Linked DNA regions of Homo sapiens. The protein of the gene in region 3 interacts with the protein of the main gene of each other region in a biochemical or structural test. Each region holds a gene or a part of one and is shown on either strand. Other genes may lie near its edges. The genes, in order: MAPK8, RNF11, ITCH and SH3GL2.

Region 1 (8,672 bases), on a different chromosome or scaffold from region 3:
TCTCCCTCTCACTGTGCCATGTGAGGACACAGCAAGAAGGTGACTGTCTGCAAGCTGAGAAAGGTGACTTCACCAGAACCTGCCCATACTGGCAAACTCCTATCTCAGACTTCCAGCCTTTAGAATTTTGAGAAAATAAATTTCTGTCACTTAAGCCACCTAGTTTATGATATTTTGTGATGGCAGCCCAAGCTAAGGCAGTGGGTGTGGATGGAGAGAGGACAATTTAGCATATGTGTAAGATGTGGGAGGTGGGCAAAACATTGGAAAAAAAGAACCAATAATGAAAGTAAGAATAAAGAATGAAAGCACAAAAGCTAATGGAGAGCAAGATGTTCTGTCCAGTTGCTCTGAGGTTTTAAAAAAACAGAAAATACGCCAAATTTCTTAGGGCACTGGCTTTCATTTTTGGCTACAAATTAAAATTACCTGAGGGGATGTGAAAATAGCTACAGAAGCCTGGGCTCCACCCCAGACCACTGGAGAAGGAGCACCAGACATGGAGCCTGGGTGTGGGTAGTGTTTTGTTTTGTTTTGTTTTCCTTGAGACGGAGTCTTGCTCTGTCACCCAGGCTGGAGTGCAGTGGTGTGATCTTGGCTCACTGCAACCTCCACCTCCCAGGTTCAAGTGATTCTCCTGCCTCAGCCTCTTGAGTAGCTGAGATTACAGGCTTGCGCCACCACGACCAGCTAATTTTTGTATTTTTAATAGCGATGGGGCTTCACCATGTTTGTCAGGCTGGTCTTGAACTCCTGACCTTGTGATCCACCTGCCTCGGCCTCCCGAAGTGCTAGGATTACAGCTGTGAGCCACCACGTTCAGCCGGGTGTGGGCAGTTTTAAAGCCCCTCCCCACCCAGGTGATTAAAATGAGCAGGGTGACTTGTGAGTCAGTGTCCTGCTGCTGGGATTCTCAAACTCAAATGGGCATCAGAAATGCCTTGGGGGGGCTCATTAAAACACAGATTGCTGGGCTTCTTCCTCAAGGTTTCTCACTCAGCCGGTCTAAGGTGAGTATGAGAATTTGCATTTTCGACAAGTTCTCAGCTGATGCTGGTCTGGGGAACCACAATTTGAAAACCATCGTCTTAGAGGAATAAATGCTGACCTTTTTTTTTTCCCATGGAAATATGCATGTGTACTCAATCTATAAACTTGACTAGCTTAGTTGGTTCTCTCTTGCATGTACCTGTAAGCAAAAACAGGGTACCACTTGTAACTTCAAATCAGAGTTCTGCCCATTCTGTCTCCACTTCATTTTGTTCAAGTTGCGACTGAGGAGCTCGGGCCATTTTTGGCCCTTTCCTACCCCTGAGGAGCCACAGTTCTTGCAGCTGGAGGATGGATTTACAATACGAACACTCATCTTTCCTCTACTCATGCATCCAGGGTCTGTCTTGCTTTATCGGGAGCCAGCAGGCTCCACCTTGAAAGATTCTCAAAGAACATCCCTGAGTCAGGGACTGACTGACCAAGGTGCTGAACCTCTCCCTCCTGTTGGGGGAAAAGTAGACTTGACTGGAGACATGGGTGGGAGACGAGACTGGGAGGCTTGAAAGCAAGGCTAACAGAGAAGGATGGTGGTGGAGGTGGAGTCAGGGGAGAGGGAGTGTCCTTGGAGATGCCCTTCTGCAGGCTTTAGTTGGTAAGTACCTTCCCACCAACCCAACTCCCCACCCCTGGGGTGAGGTCAGGGAATTAGGAAGTAAGTTGAAGTCTCAGCTTTCAGTTTCTGCACCCTGAACAGCTTGGTGATATTCACCTGACTACCTTAGCCAAAGAAACATCTTCAGTGCAATCCATTGTGTGTGGTCTGGGATGACAAGGGAAGAGATACTCTGGTGGAGTGCAACCTCTTCTTGAACATCCCTCAGGGCTCCAGCAGAGGCTGAGTTTGAAAGGCCTACAGTTCCTCTTCTCTCCTTTCCCCATCCCAGCCTCAGAGGTATCCAAAGACCAGGTGTCCCCAAGACAGCTCCCCTGGGACAAGAGACAAGAAACCTGAATTCACTATATTTTCCTCTTTTTCTGAGTCAGCCCCTTAATAGGTTAACAAGGAACCCTAACAGGTTGACAAGAAAGAATTGCATGAAAAGGAAGAAGAAGGCCCAACACTGCATCTGGGTTACAGAAAAGCATTTTGAATTTGCAGAATATCAGAGATAATTACATTCCATCAGAAATAGCAAAATGCTTTCTGAAATCAATCATACACACACACAAACACACAAACGCACATATGTAAATATGTGGAATGTTCTTTCTAGTTGTAGATAATCAGAAGCTGACCATGGTAGACTGATACTAAGTCAGAAGCTCACTCTGTGGAGTGAGACAGAGGCGGTTATTAACAATAGCATCACAGAACTGGGCGTGAAACTCTGGAGCTCTGCTCCCAGCAACTCCCCTCACTTCACAACAGCTCTAAGGGTTGTATTGTTTTTTGTTACCTCCAGGCCTTTAATTTGTCTGGTGAAGAGTAGGTGGTACCTCTGTCTGTGCACTCAATCACACCCCGTTCTCTCTGGAAACACACGTCTTCCTTCTCTTTTGTGTGTATTCAACCTCTCCCTCTCAACAGTCTTCCCATCAGATGTAAAATATGCTTGTGTCCTACTTCACTGCCCGACTCATCCATATTCACCACCTTTATTTTCTCACCTCCCATTCATTTCCCAGCCCACTCTAATTCACTTCTGGTTCTATTACTCCAGGATTCCAAGCCTCCTCTTATGTTTAATATTATTGATCAGCCCTTTCTTCTTGAACACCTCTCTCCTGGTTATCCTTCTATCTCCCTGGCAGCTCATCACAGACTCATCTTCCCCTTTGTGGCCCTTTAACACTGAAGTTCCCCAAGCCTGGTTGCAGGCCCTCTCCTCAGGCCTAGGCTGACCCATCTATCCCAAGGCTTCAAGGAATCACTCACTGTCAATGATTCGTCTCTTAACTAGCTGAACCTCAGCTCTGTATATCCAACCACCAACTTAACATCAGTTTTGGGCATCTCAAAAGCCTTCAAACAGCCAAACAGCCTGCTCTCATGATATTTTAATGCCAGTCTGGTCCTTTTCCAAGATTCCCATCTTGGTAAACCAGCACTAACATCCATCCTTGGCCACAAGCCAGAAACCTTTGAGTTTTCCTTGATGACTCCCTCTCCTTCATTGCCCCACATAACCCATCACTTGGAGAATGTGCAAGTTCTGCCCGTTGGACCTCCTAAATAATTCACAGATCTTTCCATGTCCATCAACTATTTCCATGACCATCACCCTAGATCAAGCTTCCACCTCTTACCGTCTAGGCTACTCCTACATCCACCTGGGCTCTTTCCAATAAGGAATCTTTTCAAGAAGCTATTCTGACCATGCCACACCCTTTGCTGAATATGTCAGGGGCTTCCCATTGCACTTAGGATAAAAAGATTTTCAACATGGCCAATATGGATGTCCTACGTTTGGTCCCTTTACCAATCTTCCTGACTTCATCTCATAGCTCCTTCTTCCTTGCTCCTCCAGCAGAGCTGGCCTTTCCTGAATTTCTCCATCTTATCCTGCTTAATCTCATCAGAGGACCTTTGCGTGCAAAGCTACCTCTAAAATATTCTCTGTCTAGTCAAACCTATTCCCAGCTCAAGTGACAGTTCCTCAGGGAAATCTTTTCTGGCCTTATTAACTAGTGTATTAATTGGTTTCATAGTATTATGTATCCTTAACAATTTGTATTATAAAACAGTGATAATTTTGCGTTTACTATTATTACTTTCATAGTACAGTGATTAAATCTGTAAACTCTACTGTATTGCCTGGCACTGAATGGGCATGCAATAAATAATTATTGCAGGAACAAAGGATGGCAGGAAGGAAATTAAGAAGGTTGAGAGGGAGGGAGAGAGGAAATGGGAAGAGAATGAATGAATAATCATCTGTATGTTCCCTTTCAGAATCACCAGAAACAGGCCAGCCCCACATGTAATAGGAAAGTAGTTTACCTGAAATCATTCATTTATTCAACAAATATTTATATATTCATTATTAAAGTAACTTACTTGTTTCTGATTGTGAACATAACTATTCCTCTCGGAAAACATGAGAAAATACCCAAAGTATAAACGAGAACCAAGTCACCCTTTATTCCATAGTCCAATGATGAACCATTGTTAACATAATTTGGTGTATTTCTTTCCAGGTTTTTTCTATGTGTATATATAGTATCTAAGTGGGACCATTCTATATATGACTTGTTTCTTGCTTCTTTCTCTTAATGATACATTGTGAACATGTTCCTATGTTGTTAAGAATTCCTTGAACACATGGCATTTAAATTGCTAAAATGTATTCTACCGAATGGTGTAGGTAGTTCAAACGCCTTTCCACCCGTTGTTGGATATTTAAAGGACTTGTCAATTTATCGCTTCTGTAACATTTACACGCTTTGTGGGGCCTCAGAAGTAAACCAGGTAATGCAAGGAATCTGGGAAGAGGTGGATTTGCAAGGAATCTCGGAGGAGGTGGATTTTGGAAAAACTGGAGGCAGCTTTTCCCGGGCAGCTGAAGAGAACACTTATCTCTCTGTAGGTTTCTGGGACCCGGACAGGTGTCCTCAGAATGGAACATATTGTCGGTCAAGGTAACCAGCTCTTCATCACTCAGGTGTGTGTACCGGAAGGGGGTGCCTGTTCGCTGCGCAGGTTAGGCCTAAGCGCACCTGCCCTTCAACCCTGTGCCGACGAGGCCCGAAGGCTTAAGCTCTGACCTGGCTACCGCCGCCAACCAGATGCGGTCCCCTGGGGCCACGCGCCGCCACGTGCCGCCACAGGGCCCGCCCCTCCCGCTCCAGGCCACGCCCCTCACCCACAGCCCTCGGAGGCTCTCTCCGCGGCTCCGCCTCCAAGCGACCTCCGCAAGTCCTCTCGTAACCCCTGGAGTAGCGCCGTCCCCGGGCGGCGGCCCCGCCCCCGCAATCCGGGCCCCGGGGCTGCCCCGCCCCGCCGGCCGCTCGGGAGGCGCGGGGGCGGGGCCCTGCGCGATGACGTGCGCGGGCGTGCGCGGTGACGGCCCGCGTCTCTGTTACTCAGCCGAGCGGCCGAGGCCGGACGACGCGGCTTGGATTGCGGAGCCGCGAGCAGCGCTGGGTAACGGCCGCGGCGACCACCCCGGACGGCCCCTGTCCCCGCTGGCGGGCTTCCCTGTCGCCGTTCGCTGCGCTGCCGGGTGAGTGCGGCGGACGCCGCAGGGCCGGGACGGCAGGCGGCCCCGTCGTGTTTATGTTATTGTGCCGCTGCCGCCGCCGCCGCCTTCTCCTCAGCCGTAACCCCCTCCTGGGAGTGGGGGCGGGAGCGCGCGGTGGGCGGGGGCGGCGCGGGAACAATAGCGGCGCGGAGGCGGGGGCCAGCCGAGGGGGCGTGGGGCTGCGGGACCTGGGTGCGCTCCGCTGCCCGCCAGCCCGCCTGCCGCCGCGAGCCCCGCCCGCCTGTCCTCTCGCGTCCTCTTCGCGTGGGTCCTGCCTCCGCGGCGGGAGAAGAAAATGGAGCGGGGGGGTGGGTGGCAAGTTCTGAAACACTTCGGCAAGGGTCGGACGGAGGTGTCTTTGCGGCCCGCCGCGCCCTGGCTGCCTCCGGGGCGGCGGGGAGCCGGGGAGAGCGCTTCTGCCGGCAGGTCCCCAAGCCTGCCCCGCGCCCATAGGGACCGTATTTTGCTTCTCGATGCTTTCTTTGTGCTAACGTTCTGGGCGAACGCAGGCAGCAGCGCTGAAAAGGGCCAGAGTGGCCTGCAGCTCTGGGCTGCAGGGCAGAGAGCCCAGGCCCGTGGCTCGGGTGGGAGGTGTCCATCCAGCTTGGCCCGAGCTTCGGTGGTCAGCGCGCATTTCTCTTGAGGGTCATCGGTGGTGACCTTTTGACTTTTTCACCCCACCCTCCCATCTCTTTGTCTCGCATTTGTGTTCCCGATTCAGAGATGGTAGAACCAAGTCCATTTTAAAGTACCCTGATGAACACTTTCCGTTTTTATTTCTGAAAGTTCCCTGCTTGGTCTTTACTGCGAATTTAATAACATGTTGACTACATGGCATTGTCCAGTGATTACTATTTTTACCTCTGAAATCCAGCGATCTTTCCAGTAGAATTCTGGTCCGTCAGTCCATTGTGTTTTGAGATAAGCATCCAGCAAGTACCTCCTTGGCAATTAGAACATCTGTTTTTTCATTCATTCATTCATTCAGCAGCTGTTTAGTACCGTACTCAGATGAAGAGGTTTGGTGTGAAGGTAAAGTATCCTTTCATGGAAGAGGATGCTTTGACTGAAGTATAATAGATGGACCTTTAAATGAGACAGTTACATAAGTGATGTCTGTTAAGGAAGGTATGGTTATATTCTGGGTCATTTTTTAAGCAGTATATCTGGAAGTTCAAGTGTAATAGGAAGTAGAATTAGATTTGGTCTAAATATACAACAGCTTTTATTTATTTCTAAATTTTATTTTTTCCAGTCTTGCAGCCTTACAGTCATTTGTAATGGTTACCTCAGATTCCCCTGCTGTGGTTAACGTTAAACCTAGGAGGTCAGATGCTCTAAGTGAACATGTTTAGTGCTGTGCCTGACAAAAGCAAGCAATCAAAATGGGACTTCCTTGAGGGCAGGCCTGTCTTGCATCTGTTTCTCCACCACCTAGCCTGGAATATAGTAAGTGTTCAATAAAAGTCGGATTGATGAAAAGCTCTTTGTAATTGATAATATTTAAAATCAAGCCTTAAAAAAAACCGTAATGTTCTCCATAAAGTTTTGGAAGCTTCATGCAACTGTCGCATCAGATGGCTAAATGGTCAGTTCATGTACATTATCTGTTATGATGACATGGGCTTTTGAATCACGTGTAGGTCATTCACTGTCCTAAAATAAAATCTTGTCTAAATATTTTTTTAATATGATAAATAAAGTAGGTTGTGGAGTGTGTGTTTCTGTGTATGTGCTAGTTTATGTGTGTCCGTGTGTGTGCATGTACGTAATCCACACACAGGCACTCATAAACTGGTATTTCAGTAGGGGTCTAAAATGATTGCATTTATAATTTTGTGAATATTATTTGAAAGTTTTTTGGTGACTCTTATTGTGGAAAATTGAGGACAAAACCACATAAATGTTTTATTAGAAATATTTCTAATATTTTAGAAATGTTTACTTGAAATGTTTGGTTTTAAGTTCTAACTTGTATTAACACAATTGGTACAAAATATGAGCCTAAAACTCAAAATAATTGATTTATCGAAGTTAAAGCTCTTTTCCACTTACTAAATACAGTTTAGCGTTTGTTTTGTATTTGAAAGAATATGAAATGAGTTAACTAATGAGTTTCTTATTATTTGCTGTAAAGTGGAAATGAAGAAATAAGAAAATAATACTTTTTTAAGATGATGGTTGAAAATCTTTGAGATACCAAAGTTTTATTGCTTTACCTAGTTAGGGTATGTCAGATTCTAGTAGGGGTTACTGACAATCCTTTGGCAGTAGCTCACAGGCTGTGTAAAGAACCAGAGTTGTGTTACTTTGTTTTCCAAATTGTTGGTTTTTAAAAATAGCTTTATTGCAATTTAATTGACATAAAATTCACCAGTTAGAGTGTATATATTTCGGTTTTTAGTATTTTCACAGTGTTGTGCCTTGATCACCATCACTAATTCCAGAACATTGTCATCACCCCAAGAAGAAACACCATATCCATTAGCAGTCACTCTGAATTTCACTTCAAATTATCCTTTAAAGTAAGAGATATAGCATCGATTCTGTTAGTAAATATATTCCTTTAGTAAGTATGAAAAGGGCTCCTTTTAAATGTCCTGTCCTGGCAGAATAGGAAACTATATCCTTCATACTCCTTTAGATCCTGGGGGAAATGCCATTTGGAAAGGAAGTCAGTGCAAGAATAAATTGTATACAAATTAATGTGGTTATAATCTTAACTATTTGCTCCATGCCTGATATTATCAAAGTGACCTTGTGAGGATGAGATGTTCAGTGAAACAACTTGAAGGAATTTGTTGTTAAATGACTAGTCCCCAACTATCCTAGTGCTAAGAGGTTGTTGAATAGGAGCCTGCTTCTTGTTGGTCTGCTTTGCCAGCGGGTTGAATTTTGACATATTTCAGTCATCTACATGGTTGAGATGCTTTGTTGCACGAGTGGAAATACAAAATAATGTCTGACATTAGGATTCCAGTGCTCTAGAGGTCTCTGGTCAAGTCAATGGTATGGGTAGTAGCTTTTCTGATTCATGTGGTCCAAGGAAGTCATTATAACCACATAGCTTTATATATGAATCATTTGCCTATGTCAGTGAACTGTGATGCTGATTGTCTTAATCATGAGCTCTTTACCTGAACATTTAGAAGCCTTGCATTCTTACTCTTAATGCAGGTTAAGTTGAACTTTGATTTCAGAAGTGAGTTGACTGAAAGGTAACAGGAGTATTGAAATGAGTTATCCTGTCATTCAGGTCAATAGGTGGAGCTAGAGCAATCCAGGAATCAGACCTAGGTTCATTTCTCAGTTCTGCCATCTGGACTTTGTCATCAAATTCTGGAGCTTTAGGCAAGTGCCTTAATGTTTTTGGCTTTAAAAGTATAAACTGAGGCTGTCAGAACTTTTTTTTATAGAAGGCTTGTTCCTCAGATAGGT
Region 2 (8,285 bases), on a different chromosome or scaffold from region 3:
TGAGGTAGCTAACGCCTGTAATCCCAGTCTTTGGGAGGCTGAGGGAGGAGGATCACCTGAAGCCAGGAGTTTGAGGCTGCCAAGTGAGCAATCCAGTCTAACCTGGATGACAGAGGGAGATTCTCAACTCAAATAAATGAATAAATAACCTTGGATTGCTGTTTCTCAGATCATCTAAAATAACCATTCCTAAGACAGATCTTATTTCTTTGGGGGTGGGGGACAATACTTTTTCTCCAAAAGTTTCTTTTTATGCTCCCATGTTTTAAAGTAATTTTCTTCTGATTGATACTGAATTTGTATATTAGTCTGCGTCATTCACTTCAGGAAACTGCAACCATAAAAAACTCCCACTGTCAAAAATATAACATTTCCAAAAAAAGTTCCTTCATGACACCAAAAACCCCTCATCCCTCATCATCACCTAGTTCTTCTGGAAAAGGCAAACACAGTTTCCATAAATTCTAGTACCTTTAATAGTACAATTATCATAAGGATAGGAGAAAGAGAACAAGTCAAAGATATTCAATTAAGAAAGGGGATAGGAGGCAGGAGAATTTGCTTGAGGCCAGGAGTTCAAGACCAGCCTAGGCAACATAGGAGTCCCTGTCTCTATTTTTTTAAAAATAGAAGGGGGTGAGGGTAGGGAGCATAAGAGATTTTAAAATAAAAACTTCATGCCAGATGCGGTGGCTCATGCCTGTAATCCTAGCACTTTGGGAGACTGAGGTGGGTGGACTGCTTGAGGTCAGGAGTTCAAGACCAGCCTGACCAACATGGTGAAACCCCGTCTTTACTAAAAATACAAAAATTAGCTAGGTGTGGTGGCACGCGCCTGTAATCCCAGCTACTCAGGAGGCTGAGGCAGGAGAATCGCTAGAACCCGGGAGGTGGAGGTTGCAGTAAGCAGTGAGATTGTGCCACTGCACTCCAGCCGGGGTGACAGAGCGAGACTCCATCTCATTAAAAAAAAAAAGTTAAATAAGCACTTTTGTTGTATAGTAAACATAGGAGGGAAAGACAGTGAAGGATAAACATAGCTTGCTTGCTTCACTCAAAGGTACTTGTAAAGACACCCAGATTCAGCTTTGATTTTTAAGAGACTACCCTGTGACAACTTACTTTGGAAAAAATATTTGTGTAAATACAGAAAATACTAAATTCAACTTCATTAATTAATTCAGCATTTAGGTGCTTATGTGCCAGAAACTGAGCGAGGGGAGAGTCCCTGTTCTCAAGGGCTTTTACTCGTAATTTATCTCCCAGTTACTGAGTCCCTACTGAGGCAGATGCGAGGGATACAACAGCAAACCGGAAACACAGATTCTCTACCTTCACGCAGCTTGCACTGAAGGAGGCGATTACAAGGATGAGACACACATCTAACAAAGATACAACACTAAAGTGTTATAGATATTGCTTATGGAAGTGTAGAGGTTTCAGTGGGGACACAAGGGATTCGGGCTGGGAAGGAAGGGAATGCTGGGACTTCAGACATGAAAGCTGAGTTCTCAAAGAGGATTAGATGTCCACCTGGCTGACCCGGGCGAAGGGCTCCAAGCAGAGAGGAACTGGAGCAAAACAAAGCTGTGAACAGCCTGGTGTATTTGGTAGGCCTGGAATATAGAACGTAAGAGGGAGAAGTCATGGAGGCTTCTGTAATACCACAATCAAGACTGGACCTTACTGGTATATATGAAATGCCCCCAGAAGAATTTTATTCAGAAAACGAGCATATATATGATCAGGTTTTTCTGGTGTGATGAGACATTGGTTTACACAGGAATGAGAAAAGAAAACACTAGATAATGATGTCATCACATGAAACAACAAAGGAGCCTACCCAGTCAGAAAACTAAACTCTTCAGGAAGAAATTAAGCACTACTACTATTGAAGCCCTCTGGAAAAGGGTGTATTCAATATCATCTAAAATGGAAAAAGTACAGGAAAGGTTTTCACACATCTATTGTGGATTATAACATCCACATACCTATTTTGAGTTTAAGAGGTCTTCACTCGAATTCTGCAACACATCTGGGACTACTGATTATTGTACAAAAAGCAGTACAACGTATTTAGGAGAGTCTTTGATACAAAGGGAGAACACGAGTAACCGAAGGAATTTCCCAAGCCAGGTTTAAAGGTTTCCAAAGTTCAAGCTAATCAAGTTTTCTTAAGTCAGCACGTTTAAAAGGTGTGTCATATGGGTGGAGCAAAAAGAGGAGGGATTAAAATTTATATACATATATATATATATATATATACACATATATATATATATACACACACACACAAGTAACTCGATGTCGCTAGGGTTAAAATCACCACTTGGAGATCCGTCTCCCAAGCAGAGGGAAAACCTGCCAGATCCAATTAACAAAAAGACGAGGGAGGTGGGTAAGAGGACGACCACACATGAAAACATAAATGGGGCGGGGGGGTGGTGCTTGGCAACCACCTATCCAGAACCCATAATCCAGTTGGCGGTGCGATGAGGAAATCATACGATTCAGACATAAAGACAGGAAAATGTCACTCCCAAACTCCACAAGCGAACCACCAGACACTGGCCAAGGGGATGTGATCACATACTCTGATCCCAGAACTCAAGGGCAGAGGGTATCATCCCCACACGGTGCCCGAGGGCAGGCGAAGAATCAACCTTACTCTGAGATCAGAGAGCAAATGCCCTCAGATCCAGCCCTAAGGGGTCAATGCCGCCCAGGCCAGGCCTTGCCGAAGCCAGGGGCAGAGACGGCCCCGAAGCCCCCTCAATCTCCGCCAGAGCTGCCTCTACTCGCTCCCCCCAACACACACCCTCCCCTACCTGATATGGCGGCGGCGGCTCCTGATCCGGCTCCGTCCCCTCGCCAAAGCTAGCCCGGTCGGACTGAGACTCGTGAAGCAGGGAGATGTCATCCGAGGTGGGGGATTTGAGGCAGTTCCCCATCTTCCGGAGCTGGGGTGCGTGATCTGGGGGAGGAGAAAGCAGCGGTGGGGTCGTTCGCACACTCCGCGGTCCGCCTCGGTTGGCGAGGTGGGGTCGGGCGACAGGCCGGGGATCAGGCGGAGGCGACTCCACCGCCCCACGGTGCCGCCGAGGGGCCGCTCATGCCAGCCCCCGGGGTTGGGGGATCAAGGCTGGGCCGCGGGCTCCGCTGGGGTCGCGGCGTTCGCCTCCTGCGAGGCAGCGATGGGGGGGGGGGGGCGGGGAGACGAAGCACTTCCCCACCCCGCCCCCCCGCGGGGCGGCGGCGGCCACGGAGCTGCTGGGCCTAATCCAGGTCAGCGGGGGGGGGCGCGGCCGTCGCGGCTGCCTCAGCTGCTGCCTCAGCTGCTGCTGCCCCCGCCGACGCCGGAGCCACGGCCGCGGGCCTCATCCTACTCCGCCTCAGCGAGACGGCGGCAGCCAGAACGAGGCCGGCTCGGGCACTGCGTCATCGCGCCGTGCGTGCTCTGGTCCCGCCCCCGGCGCCAGGAGGCGAGGGCGGCTCCGGCGGCGCCCATCCCCCTCTCCACTAGCAGCTGTTCTCGGTGCTGCGTCAATTTTTGCTTCTCTCTGACTGCTTGGCTCCGTACCTGGCTCCGAAACCAATCTCCCGTCTCCCGCGCCTCCCCACATTCATTGCTCCTGCCCCGTCTAGGGCTCAGTTCTTACCTGTGCACTGCCTGACAGTCTTCTCACCACCCTCCGCCAAGCGGTCTATTTATATAAACCCATATCGGAATGGATCAGTCCCATGATTAAAATGTTAAAAGCTTCCCCTTTATCCCTTCACAATAAAGTCCTAGCTCGTTACTGAACCATCCCTGCCTGTCCAATCACGTCCTTATCCTTCCACATCACAGCCAGAGAGATTATTCTTCCAGTTGTATATCAGATTGTTCATTTCTTTCCAGTCCCAGCACCAAAGTCCAAGCCACCATCATCTCTCACCTTGGCTTCTGCAATAGACTCTCAGCTGTTCCTGAGTTCATCATTGCCCACATCCAATTCACTGTTGGCACAGTTGACAGAGTTATCTTTTTAAAATTTAAATCGGATCATGTCATTCTCCTGTTAAAACCTTCAGTGTCTCCTCAAGGCTGTCCTTAAGACAATCCTTAAATGGTTTACAAATCTGACTCCCTTTCAATCTCATTAGCAGCATTGTCACCTCCTTCACAAATTCTAAACTAGACTCTCTAAAATGCTTTTCGTTATCTGGAATACTATTGCCTCTGCCTGGGGCCTTTGTCCATATTGTTTCTCTCACAGAAACCCACTTCCCTCCACTCCCAACCTTTCTGCTTCTCATCAGGCTAATCATTATTCTCAGGAATCCTTCTGGATGCAACTTCATTTCCCCTGGGGAGACTCTCCTGACCCTCCAGTCTGGGTTAGTCGCATCCTGTGTGCTCTCAGACCCTGAGCTTTTCTCTGTCACAGCCTGATCAAGCTGAATCATCTGTCCCTCTGTGCAAGGCTGGCACACTGCCCAAGGTAGAGTATGCTCTCTCCTTGGTTGAATGAGCAGCTCAAACAACATATGCAAAAGAAGGAAGCAAGAAGGATGACAGTGCTCCTGATAGACGTTCATTCAACAGGTGGATCTTGACTGCCTTTCGTTTCATTCACCATTTACTGAAGTTGTGTGTGCGTGTGTATACCAGACCCCACGCTAAGGACTGGGGAAAAGGATGATCATACCTGGCTTGTTCCTGATAGAGCCCAGAGACCACCTGGGAAGACAAGTAATCAGGTGAGTCCTAAGCCCACACCCTGCCACGGACCCCAAGGTTTTTAGAGGAACTGAAAGACAGCAATTAGTTCATTTGAGTGAGGAACAGAAAGGATTCTTAGAGGTAGGGCTATATTAAACTCGAATGGGTCTGAACACTCTTACTCTGCAGTCCCTATTCTACGAAGTCACTATCTTATTTAAATGCACTCAAATTCCACATTAAATATCACCTTTTTGATATAAAATTTTTGAAAAGACTCATAATTTTGGGCCAGGCGTGGTGGCTTACGTCTGTAATCCCAGCAATTTGGGAGGTCAAGGCGGGTGGATCACTTGAGGTCAGGGATTCGAGAGTAGCCTGGCCAACATGGTGAAACCCCATCTCTACTAAAAATACAAAAACTAGCCAGGTGTGCTGGTGCACGCCTGTAGTCCCAGCTACTCGGGAGGGTGAGGCAGGAAAACCGCTTGAACCTGGGAGGTGGAAGTTGCAGCGCAGTGAGCCCAGATTGTGCCACTGCACTCTAGCGTGGGCGAGGGAGTGAGTAAGACTCAGTCTCAAAAAAAAAAGGAAGGAGAAAGAGAGAGAGAGAGAAGGGAGGCAGGAAGGAAGGAAAGAAGGAAGGGAGAGAAAGAGAAAGAGAAAAGAGAAAGAAAAGAAAGAAAGAAAGAAAAGAAAGAAAGAAAGAAAGAAAGAAAAAGAAAAAGAAAGGAAAGAAGGAAAGAAAGAACAAACTGACTCACAATTTTGGTTTTGGAATTGTTGAGCTTCCAAGAACTCATTTAATTTATGATTGGCTAAATTTACCAGAAATCAGAGGTACCCTGGAATTTTTACAAAGTGAGAAAATTTACCCCACAAATTATTGTCAAACCTAAAGAAATTTTTATTAATAATAATTTATACAATTATTTGACATAATATTTACACAGTGCTAGAATTTGTAGACATTGTTTGTTTGTTTTGGAGACAGGGTCTCACTCTGTCACCCAGGCTGGCTTGATCGAGGCTCACTGCAGCTTCAACCTCCTGGGCTCAGGTGATCCTCCTGCTTCAGGCCTCTCCAGTAACTAGAACTACAGATGCACACCACCATGCCTTGCATTTGTTTTTGTTTTTGGTAGAGACGAAGTCTTGCCATGTTGCCCAGGCTGGTCTCAAACTCCTGGGCGCAAGCGATCCTCCCGCCTCAGCCTCCCAAAGTGCTGGAATTACAGGTGTGAGCCACTGTATGCCTGGCCAGACATAGATTTATTTAGTTAGTTTTAATTTTTTTTAATTTTTATTTTTTGAGACAGAGTTTTGCTTGTGTTGCCCAGGCTAGAGTGCAATGGTGCGATCTTGGCTTACCGCAACCTCTACTTCCCCGGTTCAAGCAATTCTCCTGCCTCAGCCTCCTGAATAGCTGGGATTACAGGCGCGCACCACCACGCCCAACTAATTTTTTGTATTTTTAGTAAAGACGGGGTTTCACTATGTTGGCCAGGCTGGTCTCGAACTCCTGACCTCAGGTGATCCACCCACCTTGGCCTCTCAAAGTGCTGGGATTATAGGCGTGAGCCAGCTCGCCAGGCCAGATTTATTTTTTTAAGTTTTGTTTTTCATTCTTTTTTTCCACAGGTGGGTAACACTGACACAAGCCCTTGAAAAGTTCTATAGTGCCTTGTGAAAATAAGTTATATTGTTAAGTTTAAAACTAGCTTGGGCTGGGTGCAGTGGCTTACGCCTGTAATCTCAGCACTTTGGGAGGCCGAGGCGGGTGGATCACGAGGTCAGGAGTTCAAAACCAGCCTGGCCAATGTGGCGAAACCCCATCTCTACTAAAAATACAAAAATTAGCCGGGCATGGTGGCATGCACCTGTAATCCCAGCTCCTCAGGAGGCTGAGGCAGGAGAATCACTTGAACCTGAGAGGCGGAGGTTGCAGTGAGCCGAGATCACGCCATTGCACTCCAGCCTGGATAACAGAGTGAGACTCCGTCTCAGTAAACAAACAAACAAACAAGGCTAGTTGTTCACCAGAAGATGGGAGGAGCATTTGAAGCCCATTAATGGCTTGGACATGGTCCCTGCCTTCAAATAGCTCAAACTCAAGTAGATGAGACAAGTAGGTGAACAGTTAGCAGGGCTACATTCAGACCTTTATATTTGTTCTACTTTTATTTTTAACTTTTGCTTCCATGAGCATATATATATCACTACCTCACAAAGGTACAGCTTTAGACCTCTGTGTCTGGTGAGAGAATAACTGTTGCATATTCCCCTGAGCTCAGAGGAAATGATATTTTAGAAAAGATGAATGGTTATTGACCATTATTTTTTTGTGGATGAGTAAAATATCAGCTACAATTTTAACATAGTTTAAAAAAACGATAGAATTTTGTTTTGTTTTGTTTTTGTTTTTTTTGAAACGGAGTCTCACTCTATCACACAGGCTGCAGTGCAGTGGCACAATTGGCTCACTGCAACCTCCACCTCCTGGGTTCAAGTGATTCTCGTGCCTCAGCCTCCTGAATAGCTGGAATTATAGCCGGGGTCCACCATGCCCAGTTAACTTTTTGTATTTTTAATCAAGATGGTGTTTCACCATGTTGGTCAGGCTGGTCTCGAACTCCTGACCTCAAATGATCCACCTGCCTTGGCCTCCCAAAGTTCAGGGATTTCAGGCATGAGCCACCATGCCCGGCCATGTGGTCTTGATAATAATGAATAAAACTACCAGAATAAAATTGTATCTATCACTTATGTAGTGCTTCCTATGTGTCAGGCACTGTCCCAAATGCTTTACTTCTGTTCATTTAATGCTAATTAAATGATCTGCAGAGTGACTAGGGCCTAACACAGCATGGCTCTTTTGGATACTCACAAGCTAATCAGATGTGAAAATAACATTGTCTTTGGCCCAAGTTGAATAATAGCCATCATAGCAAACTCTTATAAAACACTCTCTGTTAGACAGCATGTGTTTTATTTGCCCTCTCTGGTAATTCATTCAACCCTCAAAACTCTATGAAATGGACACTACTGATATCCCCATATTACAAATGATGTAAGATATAAACAGATGTGCTAGAGTTGGTTCATACTAGCTCATATGAGTCAATTGTTAGAATTTCAGGAATTGTGTGACCTTGTTGTTAAACATAGTCATTATTAAAAATTAAATTATATAAACTTACAGTTAAAAGGTATATTAAAAACAAACATAATAAATACCCAAAACGAGTGGCTTTCTAACTACTTTACTGTATTTCACTATTATCTGTGTTATTGAGGTTATTTCCTTCTAGTGTATCTCTGTGGTAGAAATACTTTATAATGACAAGCCGCTGAACATCTCTCCCTAATTCTGTGTTTAATGATGCCAGATTGGTAGCTTGAAATTGCCCATGGTGAGAGTATTTATACCTTGGAAATCAGCAAATGTTACAGGACTTGATTAATTGTTTCGTTGACTGTCTACACTTAACCAAGTGACTCCAATTCCAACCTGGCATCCTACATTCCAGCCACATCACAGTGCTTTCCATAGCCTTGACTTTCAGTATGCCTTTCCACC
Region 3 (8,259 bases):
TTAATAAGAGGGGAGAAAAGAGTTTTTGTCTTTAATAATTGGTAGTGAAAACCTCTGACCTTTTCTTTACTGGGCCCAGTGGAAAATTTATTAGAATTGTTTGTAGAGCAGCCTGCCCTTTAATATGCTACTTTACTTAGTTTATTTACTCCACTAAAATACACCTGACTTCTCAACTGGAACATTCTCCAGCATTACTTGTTGGTCTGAGAGAATAGTAGTGTAAAAAGTAGATGAGGGGTTAGTTGTGGTGGAAGAATTTCTGGGAGGGGAAGCAGTTGGGCAAGGGTGAAGGAATTGAAACTACTAGGGAAAGTAGCCTATGATGAAGCCCAAGTGAGGCGTGAAGTGAGCTGATGAACTGTAAAGATTCTGGAAGGAGTTGAAGGTTGTGATGAGACTGAATAAAAGATACTGTAGGAGGCAGGTAGAATAAATAGGAAGTTGTAGTTAGAGGGATTTTAGAGTTCAAGATCTAGGAAGAGGAACAATTCTAAGTATCAAGGAAATTTAAGGAGTTGTACGGGTTATCAGATGACTCCATTGAAAAATTGAGATCAAAATGTTATAAGGGTGTACAGCATTGATGTTAAAATTCCCCAAATTTTAATCCCCAGCAACAAATCATAGCATTTTTGGAATCCTGTTTCTGCTGTACCTTTATCATAGTAGGTTTATCTCATGCACTGAATGTTCCTTCTCCCTCACATATCCCTAAAACTTGTCTAGCACTGAATGTGCAATTTAGTATGAATTTTCTAGCTGAAAGATTTTTAGGCATCTTGTAGTCAAGATAATACATTTTAGGATGCATTCTTGGGTCACATAACTCATCAGTAGCAGAGTCAGAGCTAGAAACCTTAATTTCCCAATTTTTGGTCTATTCTACTCATTGTTATCTGTTATTTAAAAAGCAGCAGGAACTCTTCTTTCAAACTAGTTAGGAACGTCTTAAAATAGCATGGAGAGGCAATACGCAGTCTTAAAATGGTTTTGGAAACCTCACTTAGAAGAAGAGAAGCAGTGTCAAAGCTGACTCTTCCTGCATTCAGACCATGTTCTGCAGGTAGTCAACACTAATCAGGTGCTGACTGCCAATTACTGAGGTGTTCCCTCTATTATAAGCATTTGGGGAACCCCCAAAGTAGTGCTTGTCATACCTTACTGTCCACATATATAATCTGGGGATCTTGTTAAAATGCTAGCTCTGATATAGTAGGTCTAGAATAGTTTTGAAGATTGTGCATTTCTGACAAGCTCCTGTATAGTGCTCGTCCGTTTGGTTTAAAGACCACACTTTGAATAGAAAGGCCCTAAAGGATTTCTGTGGTACACAGTTTGAAAATGTCTTTTAAAATATGAGGACTGGTACGCAGTGGCTCGTGCCTGTAATTGTAGCACTTTGGGAGGCCAAGGAGGGAGGATTGCTTGAGGTCAGGAGTTCAAGACCAGCCTGGGCAACATGGCGAAACCCTGTCTCTACGAAATACACAAAAGAATTAGCTGCGCGTGGTGGCAGGTGCCTGTAGTCCTACCTACTCGGGAGGCTGAGGCATGAGAACTGCTAGAACCTGGTAGGTGAAGGTTGCAGTGAGCCGAGATCACACCACTGCACTCCAGCCTGGGCGATGGAATGAGACGCTGTCTCAAAAAAAAAAGGAAAAAGAAAAAAACTATGTGAGGAGAGAGAGATGTTAATTAGCTTGACTGTAGTACTTTTTTTCACTATGTATATCAAAACATCATGTTATACTGTTTTTATTAAAAATAAATCATTGCAATACATGTTTTACAGAAAAAAAATTTAATACATGGTACTGCCTCTCTGTTTCTTTGTTTGTTTGAGACAGGGTCTCACTCTGTCTCCCAGGTTGGAGTGCAGTGGCGCAAGCTCAGCTCACTGCAACCTCCACTTCCCAGACTCAAACAATCCTCCCACCTCAGCCTCCTGAGTAGCTTCGACTACAGGCGTGCCCTGCCATGCCCAGCTACTTTTTAAATTTTTTTGTACAGACAGGGCCTTGTCATGTTGCCCAGGCTGATCTGTCACTCCTGCGCTTAAGTGATCCTTTCACCTCAGCTTCCCAAAGTGCTGCAATTACAAGCGTGAGCCACAGCACCCGGCCTCTGTTAGTTGAATCTATTAGATTTTATTTTGTTCAGGCTTATTCTGAAATTCCTAGGAGTATGGGTTAGTACTGTGTAGTGGTTTGGAGGTAGTACATACCAGAGCCTTGGCTGAGACATCTGCAGACTGGCTACTTATGCCCTTGTTTCTAATCTATGACTAGAGCCCCTCTGGAAGGAAAAGGAATCAGCTATATTTAGCCAACAGTAGCAGTAGCTTTCAGTCTGACATTTCCTGTTAGTGTTCTTCCCTCCTTTCTATCCCTCCAGTTGATGTCATTGCTTTGAAGAAATGACAGCTCCTTTAAAAAAAGTCTGTGGTTACTTCTACTCTAAATCACTAGCTTTGAACATTTTGTGTACCATTGTACTGAGCTGGGGGATATCAGGGCCTAGTCCCTGGGAAATACGTGCACTTTGTTCTCCTAGCATGGGAAAACCAGACCTGCCTCAAACTTGAATTAATAGCCAGTGGAAATCAAGAAACAACAATGGTAAAGTTATCTGTGCTTGTGATAAAATAGTGCCCTAAGGATTTTGAGAACTTGACTTTGTTCCTGTTCATATAGGGCCTTCTGAAGGCTTATTTGAAATATGAACCAGCATACCTAATAGTTCTGAATGGCCACAAGTGTTCCTATGCCCTTGGACAACCCATCACTCTATCTCTAGATGAACTCTGGGGGTTATATAGGATTCTACCCAAAGGCTCTTTATGTATTTAATAAGGCTGACCAGAAATTAAAAAGCTTTTTTGAAGCTCTTAAAAACTTAGAAGTTTTCATCCTCCTGCTGTTTTTTTTCTTAAATTCAAGGAGTATTCATTATTTCCCTCTCCCCCTTCCTTTTCCCCTCTTCTTACCCAGAGTGAGCACAAATGGATCAGATGACCCTGAAGATGCAGGAGCTGGTGAAAATAGGAGAGTCAGTGGGAATAATTCTCCATCACTCTCAAATGGTGGTTTTAAACCTTCTAGACCTCCAAGACCTTCACGACCACCACCACCCACCCCACGTAGACCAGGTTTGTATTCCAGCTCTCAATACTCTTGGAAATAATGTCCTGGTTGGCAATTAATCCTCAGGTAAGTGTCAGGAAATTCTTTTAGGTGAATTTTCTGCGTGTATTTTTACATTTAAGATTTTGGAAAAGAATGATCTTTCTGTAGGTAACCAAAAGTGCCTTTTTCCTAAGTTTTTGTTCAAGGTGACGTTACTGAGGCAGTGCTCTACTGAGAATGAAAATGACATGTGCGTAATATAAAGTATAGGCGGTGCAGATAACATGGCAATAACATTGTACCTTTCTTAAATGGTTTGTAACTATAACATAAATGTATTAAATACTCAAGGATTTGGTTGCTTATTCCTAGTATATCCTTTAAAAAGTTAGTAAACGAAAACCCAACAATGCTAAATGACCCAGATTTTAAATAAAAAGTACACAACAAACAAGCATATTTTAGGTAGTAAAAATGTGAACACCTATAAGACTATCCACTTCTCTGATAGCCAGAACAAATCTTTAATCTTACCTTTTATTGTTTCTCTCTGCTAATATGTGGGCAGGGAATGCAGTGTAGTTAAACCAAATATTACTAGAAAAGTACATTAGTTCTCTGCAAATAATTTTAAGTGAATTTCTATTCAATTATACATCTTCTCCTTTTTATTTTTTTATTTTTTGAGACAGGGTCTCACTCTGTCACCCAGACTGGAATGTGGTGACATCTCAGCTCACTGCCACCTCTACTTCCCAGGCTCAAGTGATTGTCTAGCCTCAGCCTCCCGAGTAGCTGGTACCACAGTCATGAGCCACCAATGCCTGGCTAAATATTTATATTTTTTGTAGAGATGGAGTTTTGCCATGTTGCGCAGGCTGGTCTGGAGCTCCTGAGCTGAAAGTGATCCTTCTGCCTCGGCCTCCCAAAGTGTGGGAGTTACGGGCGTAAGCCACTGCAGCCACATCTTCCCCTTTTATAGATAATTTGATTAATTGTATATTCTGAGTCTTTAAGATGTCTTTATTATAATCTTGGTGACTTCCTCTAGACATTGTTTTGTCCACAAGTATTTCTTAAAGGTGTAATGTATGACTACTAACTATCTGTAAGAATGTTATTTCTTATCAGACCTTCCATATTATAACCAACATCAAAAATTGGTCTGTAATCTGCACGGTTTCACAGGAAAGCAGTTTTAAGGAGCTGGAAAATTAATAAATGAACTTAAAATACCAAGGAATATTAATAATTTCCTATTCTAAAAGTTTTTATTTCCAGTGACATCAGAAGATCAGAGAACCTGTACATGCTTCGTGATTAGTAATGGGACATAGGGGTAGACAGGACCGAAAAAGTAAACAAGCCTATTAACTGGCAGCGTTGGTTATTTCCCATTACTTATTTCTTTAAGTAATTTTCACCTGTGCATCTACATCTTAAGTTTTATATTTATCATCTGCCTTTTATTTTTTACAGTTAAAATTCTATCCTGAATTTTAGAAAATGAAAGATTCTTTTCCTATTTTCCCCAAATCTTTTATAGCATCTGTCAATGGTTCACCATCTGCCACTTCTGAAAGTGATGGGTCTAGTACAGGCTCTCTGCCGCCGACAAATACAAATACAAATACATCTGAAGGAGCAACATCTGGATTAATAATTCCTCTTACTATATCTGGAGGCTCAGGCCCTAGGCCATTAAATCCTGTAACTCAAGCTCCCTTGCCACCTGGGTGAGTAACTTTTTAAATTAACATATGTTGTCTTTAGGATTCTTCATAAGCCTACTTATTAATAAGGAAAATAACAGTAAACAACAGTAAACTCCATTGTTTTGATGACTGTTTTTTAATTTCTTTTTTTTTTGAGATGGAGTGCTCTGTCTCCCAGACTGGAGTGCAGTGGTGTGATCTTGGCTCACTGCGACCTCCGCCCCCTGGGTTCAAGTAATTCTCCTGCCTTAGCCTCCCTAGTAGCTAGGATTACAGGTGTGCACTACCAAGCCCGGCTAATTTTTGTATTTTTAGTAGGGGATTTCACCATGTTGGCCAGGCTGGTCTCGAACTCCTGACCTCAAGTGATCCGACCACCTCAACCTCTGAAAGTGCTGGGATTACAGGCATGAGCACCCAGCCAACTGTTTTTATGTTATTGTAACTGATTTTGGGGGATCTGGAGTCAAAATGAACAAGGAAAACACACCATATTTGAAATCTTCAGGGCAAAGTGGAAAAATATATTTTTTCATCAAAGGACCCTGAAAGTTAACCAAGGCCAATTAATAAAATAATCACCTAATTCCAATTGCCTTTTTCTTTAAGGGGGAAAAAATCCCTTTTTAATATCAAACTATTTTTTTCATCAGAAGATCATTATAGGCTGGGCATGGTGGCTCACGCCTGTAATACCAGCATTTTGGGAGGCCGAGGCGGGCTGATCACCTGAGGTCAGGAGTTCGAGACCAGCCTGGCCAACATGCTGAAACCCCATCTCTACTAAAAATACAAAAAATTAGCTGGGTGTGGTGGCAGGCGCCTGTAATCCCAGCTACTCGGGAGGCTGAGGCAGGAGAATTGCTTGAACCTGGGAGGCAGAGGTTGCATTGAGCCAAGATCTTGCCACTGCACTCCAGCCTGGGCAACAAGAGCAAAACTCCATCTTGGGGAAAAAAGAAAAATCATAGCAAAGTGATAGATAATTCAGAAAACTGAGAAAATTTGTGCTCATAATCCCATTTTAATCTCTCCTGATTATTTTAAGATTATTTTCATAGATTGTTTTTAAGATACTCAGGTGTAATTTTTTCTTGTTTATTTTTTGTTTGTTTGTTTGAGATGAAATCTTGCTCTGTTGCCCAAGCTGTAGTGCAGTGGTGGGATCTTAGCTCTCTGTAACCTCCGTCTTCCGGGTTCAAGTGATTCTCTTGCCTTAGCATCCTGAGTAGCTGGGATTACAGGTACCTGCCACCATGCCCAGCTAATTTTTTTTTTTTGAGATGGAGTCTCACTCTATTGTCCAGGCTGGAGTGCAATGATGCAATCTTGGCTTACTGCAACCACTGCCTCCCAGGTTAAAGTGATTCTCCTGCCTCAGCCTCCTGAGTAGTTGGGACTACAGGTGCCCACCATCATGCCCAGCTAATTTTTGAATTTTCAGTAGAAACGGGGTTTCACCATGTTGGCCAGGCTGGTCTTGAACTCCTGACCTCAAGTAATCCACCCGTCTCAGCCTCCCAAAGTGTTGGGATTACAGGTGAGAGCCACTGCGCCTGGCCATTTCTTTCCACTCAAATCCTGATTATACCCTGATTGAGAGTGACTTCGGTATCCTAGGTAGACGGACCTCAAGCCTCTTCAGGAATATGTTTTCTCCTAGAGCAGATACTTGCATAGAAGAAATTGAATTCACTGTGTGCCACTGCCTGAAGATTACATTTCTTCACTTTATTCCTAAATTGTATTTGTATCATCTTTCTAAACTGATGTCCTTATTTGCCTTAGTTCAATAATGGTCATTTAATGGAAATGCAAAGACAGGATTAAAAAGCCAGGTAACTCATGCAAGTATTTTACCAGCCTTTTAATTTTGTATTTAAGTTGGGAGCAGAGAGTGGACCAGCACGGGCGAGTTTACTATGTAGATCATGTTGAGAAAAGAACAACATGGGATAGACCAGAACCTCTACCTCCTGGGTAAGTATCTAAATTTAAAAAGAATAATTTTATTTAGTCAGAATTGTGGATTACAACTGTATAATCTTCCCTACATTTCTGTTTTACTTTTTCTTGTCAGCCCTTTCTCTGTCCACTTTGTTTTGTGGTAAGTACAAATTAAAAAGAAGAGAGCTAGACAACTGATTAATTCAGAGCCTGATAAACAATTTTTGTTTTCACGCATATTTCTTTCTTCTTTTCTTTATTTTATAGAAACAACATCTCGCTATGTCGCCCAGGCTGGTTTTTAACTCCTGAGCTCAAGCCATCCTCCCGCGTTGGCCTCCCAAAGTGCTGGGATTACAGGCGTGAGCTATCATGCCTGGCCCTATTTTCACTCATTTCTGACCTAAAGATTCCTTAGGTGGGCTGGGCGCAGTGGCTCACGCCTGTAATCCCAGCACTTTGGGAGGGCGAGGTGGGAGGATCACGAGCTCAGGAGATTGAGACCATCCTGGCTAACGTGGTGAAACCCCGTTTCTACTAAAAATACAAAAAAAAAAAAGCCAGGCATGGTGGCGGGCACCTATAGTCCCAGCTACTTGGGAGGCTGAGGCAGGAGAATGGCATGAACCCAGGAGGCGGAGCTTGCAGTGAGCCGAGATCTCGCCACTGCACTCCAGCCTGGGCGACAGAGCAAGACTCTGTCTCAAAAAAAAAAAAAAAATTTCCTTAACTTTTCTTGTCTAAGCTGTTTACCTGTTTACTAATACTGTAGTTTAAGTATTAGTTTCTTCAAGAGTAATTATTTAAATGAATAAGAATTAGAGCCCAGTCATATATTAAAATGAAGTTCTTATTATATTTAAAAAACTATAATAGCAAAATCATTTCAAATTAATTGGGGAAGTTAAGGATATATTAATACATGGTGTTAAGCCTTTAACATTAACATTAACATTACAGTCCAGGCACGGTGGCTCGCGCCTGTAATCCCAGCACCTTGGGAGGCTGAGGTGGGGGGATCATGAGGTCAAGAGATCGAGACCATCCTAGCCAACATGTTGAAACCCCGTCTCTACTAAAAATACAAAAATTAGCTGGGTGTTGTGGCGCGCCTGTAGTCCCAGCTACTCCGGAGGCTGAGGCAGGAGAATGACTTGAACCTGGGAGGTGGAGGTGCAGTGAGCTGAGATTGTGCCACTGTACTCCAGCCTGGCGACAGATCAAGACTCCGTCAAAAAAAAAAAATCATATAAAATAATTGAAGAAAAAATATTTTTTAATCCAGAGGAAAGTCAGTAACAAACATGGAAAAATACTTAACCTTGTTAGTAATCTGAAGGAAATATACCCTGAAAAGGTACTGTTTTAGTTATTAAATTAGCAGATAATATCAAGTGTTGGTGAGGAACTTTACGTTGTTAGTTGCTGCCGGGGCTGGGCACAGTGGCTGATGCCTGAAATCCTAGCAC
Region 4 (6,818 bases), on a different chromosome or scaffold from region 3:
GCCCCTAATACACAAAGAACATGTTTATTTTCCTGGGAACTCAGAAAATACACATTTTGTGTGCCTTGCTGCTCCCCTATTCCCACTCACACCCCAAACATATACATCAAGAGAAAATAATACTGGCCTTTTTTTTTTTTTTTTTTTTTTTTTTGGAGGCAGCATCTTACTCTGTCACCCTAGGCTGGAGTGCTGTGGCGTGATCTCGGCTTACTGCAACCTCTGCCTCCCAGGTTCAAGTGATTCTCGTGCCTCAGTCTTCTGAGTAGCTGAGACTACAGGCATGCACCACCATGCCCAGCTGATTTTTGTATTTTTAGCAGAGACGAGATTTTTCCATGTTGGCCAGGCTGGTCTCGAACTCCTGACCTCAGTTGATCCACCTGCACTGGCCTCTCAAAGTGCTGGGATTACAGGTGTGAGCCACTGCACCTGGCCTAATAGTGACTTTCGATCAAACTATTTTTCCATGTCTATTTCTTTATCTTCAATTACGAAAGAAAATAAGAGGCTACTCGAAGGGATATATTTTATTTCCCCTTCCTAACATTATATTCTTCAGATGATACCACTTTTAACAATATATCATTTAACATCTATGAGACCTAATTCTCCTTACTTTCTTCTCTCCCAAATTCTCCTCCTTCCTGGGGTTACCAGGAAGGTCCCAATGTCCAGGCTAGCTACTTCCTTGCTGCTGAAACTTTTCCTATGTGTAAAGAGGTAGATATGAAGTTGGAGCCAGGTCTTGTTTGGCTGCATGAGAAAGCAATGGAGACTGAAACCAGCCCCCATCCACCCAGTGTTAGACCCAAAGAACTGACACAAAATGAAGGAGCAGAGCCTTTGGTTCTGTCTTCAGCAATATTTATTGGAAACAGCGATGCTTCCTGTGGTGAGAGTTTATACATTAAGCAGTAAGATTTGCCTTTCACTCCACATGATCCACTACTGCAGGTGGCACATCGGAAGCAGCACGTTAAACCTCTGAAAGAGTCTGTACAGCTAGATAAATAGAACTCTGCATACCTAACAGGACTTTCATGACTGATACAAATAAAAAAACACACTGATAAGCTTACACACAGCACTGTACACACAAAATGAAGACGATGGATAGAAAGGGCAGAAGTAAAAGTAGCGACTGAATTGGGAAAGAGTTTTGCATATGCAGCCATATACCTTAAACTGCTAAGCACAAAAATCATCTTTATTTGGTCCTCATTGAGGGCAGAATCTGCACAAATGATGTTCAAAGAACACAGGGTAAAAGTGGAAAGGAAAGGTATTTACTGTTTCTCAGTATATGAACTAGTGGAAAGATGGTTACTAGTGTTTTCTTCCTTGTGTCTCTGTGCCAAATGGATTCATGAAACATGTAATTCACAAATAAAACTGAAGTGAAGATATTTGTTCCCCCTTCCCTGTGCCCTTCAGAAATAGCCTAAATACATACATAGTTTCTGTATAGCAAGAAATTTAAGCTTGGATACCAGATTTCTTCCCAATTCCTCATAATGGAGAATTTCTTTTCAGTCCCTCTCACAATAATGCTGATTAACTGTCTTACTGAAAAATAATTTGGAATTACCGCTCTGGCTTTAATAGCAAGGAGGGAAGAAAACTGGCTATACGTCAGAAATAGCCATAAGTGTGAGGAGCTGAGATGCCTATTTGCAGAGAATGCTTTGAACCCACAATTAACACTTTTCTATGGATGCATTAAGAGACAAATTCATTCAGATCAGGAGACAATTTGCTGGTGAGGGAAGGCTTACTTTGACAATTCCATGACTCACATATTTGGGAAGGGACAGTGTGAAAGCAAAAGCTTTCTCCTCTTTGCATGGAGAAATGCAAAGAGACCTTCAGATGGCCCCTGGGGTGATAGACAATATCTTCGGTGGGATGGTTTTTCTGTGAAATGGCTCATGGTCATATTCTAAGAAACCACAGCCTCCTGAGAACTGTGTAAACAGCAGTTCTGTGACTACTGGCTGGTCTCAGATGATGTTTTAAAAAGCACATGCCACGCCCACCAGGCTAAGAGGATATCATCCATCACCATGACTCCTGTGGGAGCCCACAAGTCAACCAAAGTCACTTGGTGGGGCTGGATGACGTGGACCACTGCGGCCTGCACTTGGGATGTGTTATAAGCAGCATTGCCAAAGCAGTGGTTAACCGTAACTATCTGGGTCAAGAGGAGGCGAGCCAGCCAGCATAACATCCTAATGGGGCAGGGCAACCAGAATTTCCACATAATTGATGGGGAAGAAGCCTGAATGGCCATGCAGCATCCCCTCATACCAGTTCTCATCAATTTGGTTAGTGAGTGTGATGATATCGCCCTCTTTAAATCCCAACTCCCCTTCATTTTCAGGTTCAAAGTCGTACAGAGCTCGGCAGCAGGGCTGATCCATTTGGACACCTGGGAGTAAGAGCAGGAGAGAAGAGAAGAACACAAAAGGATAAGGGGTATTTAACTCACAGAATCTGCTGCCTGCTGTACCCACCTGGCTTGCTGCTCCCCGTCTTTCCTCCCTCATTCCTCTTCCTGTTGAAGCTTCTTCTTGCTACTGGACCTTAGTGTCCACTGCACTGGGCATCTTGCCCTCTACCAATCCTCAGAAGCTTTCTCGGACCTTTGGAAGTTGCTGCATATTCCTGTTTCTGTTTCCAGTATGAAAAACAGTCACATCTATTCTTGTGATACATACAACACAGTTCATTATAGTTTGCCTTCGTGATAATGCCCAGAAATAGGAGGGACAATGACTTAAGAAGAATATAATGATGTAGGTTAATAACACAGCATGGCAAGAATTCTCTCATCTGAGCACTTTAAAACCTTTGCATATCTGAAAAAGTATGGTGAATTACATGGAGAATGCTTTTAAGTAACAGTTCGGTTATCACTCTTTAAAATGATAACCCCAGCCTCTGGAAAACTGCTGTAATGTGGTGAAAACGGAATAATATAAAACACTGAGTTCAAGTTTTTACTTTCTGTGACCTTGCACATGGTACTTCGCTCTCAGTTTCACTGTCTGAAATTGGATGTAACAGTAGGACTTACTTCACATTACTACTGTGGCTACTAAATGAGATTATGTAAAAAATTTTGTAATTTATACTTGGTAAGGTAAACTGTTGCATACATAAATATATGCAGTGCACTGGAGCTATGGCATACAAAAATAATGTACTCCACCTTGAGTAAAATAATGAAGGATGAAATCATATCTTAAGAGGGATCTATTCCAAATGACCCGCTGTATTAATACTACATACATACACATGTAGATACAGACTCAGACAAGTGCACACAGTTCCCATGCCATCTAGGTGGCTGGAAAGGAAACAATGTAATTTATTTTTTTATTTAGAGAAAGAAGCAAATTACTGAGTCTCCAGATGAAAAGTGAAATATATGGTTGGTTTTCAGACAGGGAGAAGCATAGCTATACACAATTTCTGTGACTAGTCCTGGTGGCCAGCTCCAGGAGCCACAGCTGCTTATGTCATGCCCTGAAGTGCTGAGCGCAAAGGACAGAGAGCACCACCTGCCGGCTCAGACCTCGCTTTTTTTCTTAATAAGTCTCCTGAGAGCATCTTATAAAAAGTTTTCTACAGTAGAACATCAAGCACTGGGGATACAGGAAAAATAAAAGAAAGCTACCTATCTCTAACATCCACATCCAGTATAAGACAGTTCCCACTTCAAACAAGCAAATGTGGAGGTTGAAAATGTCTCCAGCACAGGCTGTTGTGTAATCTGCGTGTAGGAGTGGAGAGCAAGTGTGACAAGGTAAAGAATGCTCTATTTGGTATGCATCGATATTCCTGAGATAAAATGTCATCTAGCTTTTATTATATCAACCCCAGTGCCACAGCATGATAAAGTGATCAGAGGTGAGGCATGGGAAGGAAAACCCAGCAAGTGTCGAGTTTCAAAATATCATCTTCTACAAATATATTTAACCATATGCTTCTGTGACTCAAGAAATCCAGCTCATCAGCACATTTCTGGAGCCGCTTGCTGTCTGTGGGTTATATGCGAATGCATGTGGGGACACACTGTCCAGGGGCATTCACTGTCATACAGGCTGGATTCAGAGCGAACACGCAGGAGAAAAGATGACACTCGCAGACCAAACTGACAAGGAAAGGCGATTTACGACCACAAAGGAGGGTCAAAACAAAATGTGTTCGTGTGTGCTGATGATTGACAGAGAAAATGGGATATACAAAGAAAGTTTTATAGAGAAGAATGAGAAGGAAGGAAAGAAAAGGTAAATGAAAAAAAGACAAAAGGATTCCTTTAACAGAGTTTCTACCTGACAACTGACTCCATAAGAAATGTATTACTGCATATTTCCTATGCAGCCAGATTGGACTATTCCTAAAATTTCTGGAAGAGTGCCAATGGATATGCCAAGGGCTATGCAATAGGATCTGCAGTTTCAGCTCTTACCTGAAGGTTTGGGAGTGCCTGTGTGGGAGAGACCCCCATTGGGCTGAGTACTGTCTCCAGTTGGAAACTCCAGGCTCATTCGTGGTTTAGGTTGATATTCCCTTCTAGGCTGAGATGAAGCCTGTCTTATTCTGCAGTAAAAAGAAAAGTGGTGGAAAGGTTATGTAACCAGTTAAGAAGTAAAATGAAAAGCAAATATAAAGATTCAGGAAATGCTTGGGTCACCCACCATGCTACCATGATGAAGTGTGGGAAATCAAAAAAGGACCCTTAGTTTTCTTGTATGTATATGTCTGAGATTTTGGTGATGTCCCTTTATGGGGCCATGTCCTCACTGTCTTCATTCTCTCTCTCAATCCCTCACTTCCTCTCTCATTTATTCAGAGTCCTTTATCCAAATACGCACTGTGCTAGGTACCAGGAACACAAAAATGAATTAAAACACAGTTCTTGTACACAAAGGATAAATGCTTGAGGGGATGCATACCCCATTCTCCATGATATGATTATTATGCATTGCATGCCTCTATCAAAACACCTCATGTATCTCATAAATATATACACCTATGTACCCACAATTTTTTCAATTTTAAAAAAGACACAAACAGATTATGGTCTGTAAGGGAGACAGAACACAAACAACTGATTACTATAAATTTTAGTAAGCACTGTCAGAGATATCTACAAAGTGCCACAGGAACACAGGGGTGTGGTTGTGGGTGAAGGTGGGAAGGAGTCTATCTCTCCATAAGGAAGCTGGAGGAGGTTTAAGGAGAGAACTAAAAGATACACAGGAGCTGTTTCCAGATGAAAATGTGAAAGGGAGCTATTCTATTCAGAACATGAGAAGGTTTGGACAGAGGGAAGGAGGAAATATACTGTGTGCTCTTAGAAGAATGAGCAGTTTGAAATATAGGGAGGAGGAAAGGAAAGAGGGAAGACAAAAGGAAATTGGAAAGGTATGGCTAATAATTGTCTTCTACATACCCCTAAATATTTTCCAAAGTTTCAGTTATTCAATAAACAAAGTATGTAAGAGATATGCAAGGGAGGGCGAGGGTTTAGGGTATGGTAACTGTAGAATGATACTGACTTTGAACATATTTCAGAGGAAAAAAAGGAAAGGGCTCCCTTCATGCTCAAGAGACATTACAAAGACACATAGTATTTCTTTAGTATCTTTGAAGTATATGGTTTTAAAACCTTTCTGGAGGCTTCAGCATTACATAAATTTCCATAAGGCTGCGCCGAAGGAAAATGCTCAATTAAACCATGAATCAAAGAAAATACTGAAATGAGATCAGCCTGAGGGAAAACAACGAAAACAGGTGTGGAATCGTATGATTGGTGTCTTCTTCACGCAGGCAGCCATGTGATCAGCTGTGAGAGTCTAATCTGGCCATGTGGCCTAAGAAAAAAGCTTGCTGAGGTGACCCTTTGAGGTATACATGTTCAGCAAAATCATCCTGTTTAATCTGGCTAAATTAAAATAACACATATTATAACATAGGGCCACTGGTATATAGCCAAACAGGCTGTGCCCCACAACTCCACGGAGCCACATTCACACGGTAGTTTCCTACTACTACAGCCCTGCTGTGAGGTACATCTAATGAGGTGAAAGTAGCTCTCTCTGATGGCAGAGGACTTGACCGCCATTCAGAGAAACACAAGATGTGAAAAGAAACAGCCTCTCACACAGGTTATGGCTGGCTGTGAACTCCACTTGCACCACTGAGTGACCCTGGGCTAGTTACTTCACCTCTCTTAGCCTCAGTTTACTCATCTGTTAGTCGAGGCTAAAAACACTTAGGTTACAGGGCTGTTATAAGATTGATGATGATATGTATCCAGTACCCACATGGAATAACTGCTCAGCAAATGGCATCCATTATCAGCAGTAGCATCCTGGTGTTCCACCTGTGGCAGCCAAAATATAATCCAAGTATCGATCTCTCATAAGCAGAAAATTAGATTCAACAGAACAACGTAAAACAAAGCACAAGAAAAAACAAAATCAAAACAATCCACAAGGCGCCTCTGTAGGATAAGCGGAATTTTGGCAGACGTTTGTCTCCAAATGTATTCTATGATTTCCATTTCTTTATACATCATTTTATAGCAATAAAATGCAAATGTGAAATGCAGGGAACTGTAGAATACCTTTCTTCCAGTCTGACCGTGACTTGCTGCAGGATCTGGACTGCCTGCTTGTGGTACTCCAGCTGAGCTTGCACAAGTGCAGAGAGCTGGCTCACTTGTTCAATCTGCAGATTGATGGGAAAATCATGCCTTAGTTTTACACGTTACCATCCCTAAACAGCCACTACTGTTTCATACA

The links.
Region 1: of the proteins of ITCH (region 3) and MAPK8, one has a biochemical effect on the other in vitro, tested with the Homo sapiens proteins (2 studies listed by BioGRID).
Region 2: the proteins of ITCH (region 3) and RNF11 form a complex in vitro, tested with the Homo sapiens proteins (2 studies listed by BioGRID and IntAct).
Region 4: the proteins of ITCH (region 3) and SH3GL2 form a complex in vitro, tested with the Homo sapiens proteins (2 studies listed by BioGRID, with this or other methods).

The regions. Positions count from the first base shown.
Region 1 is NC_000010.11:48,301,606-48,310,277, forward strand, and holds the start of MAPK8 (mitogen-activated protein kinase 8), read left to right. Parts: upstream 1-5,071; 5' UTR 5,072-5,216; intron 5,217-5,623; exon of another isoform or gene 5,624-6,683; intron 6,684-8,672. UniProt on the Homo sapiens protein: Serine/threonine-protein kinase involved in various processes such as cell proliferation, differentiation, migration, transformation and programmed cell death.
Region 2 is NC_000001.11:51,231,423-51,239,707, reverse strand, and holds the start of RNF11 (RING finger protein 11), read right to left. Parts: upstream 3,436-8,285; 5' UTR 2,952-3,435; coding exon 2,829-2,951; intron 1-2,828. UniProt on the Homo sapiens protein: Essential component of a ubiquitin-editing protein complex, comprising also TNFAIP3, ITCH and TAX1BP1, that ensures the transient nature of inflammatory signaling pathways. Promotes the association of TNFAIP3 to RIPK1 after TNF stimulation.
Region 3 is NC_000020.11:34,435,481-34,443,739, forward strand, and holds part of ITCH (E3 ubiquitin-protein ligase Itchy homolog), read left to right. Parts: intron 1-2,993; coding exon 2,994-3,151; intron 3,152-4,674; coding exon 4,675-4,864; intron 4,865-6,727; coding exon 6,728-6,823; intron 6,824-8,259. UniProt on the Homo sapiens protein: Acts as an Acts as an E3 ubiquitin-protein ligase which accepts ubiquitin from an E2 ubiquitin-conjugating enzyme in the form of a thioester and then directly transfers the ubiquitin to targeted substrates.
Region 4 is NC_000009.12:17,791,157-17,797,974, reverse strand, and holds the end of SH3GL2 (endophilin-A1), read right to left. Parts: intron 6,745-6,818; coding exon 6,641-6,744; intron 4,609-6,640; coding exon 4,478-4,608; intron 2,432-4,477; coding exon 2,232-2,431; 3' UTR 851-2,231; downstream 1-850. UniProt on the Homo sapiens protein: Implicated in synaptic vesicle endocytosis. May recruit other proteins to membranes with high curvature. Required for BDNF-dependent dendrite outgrowth.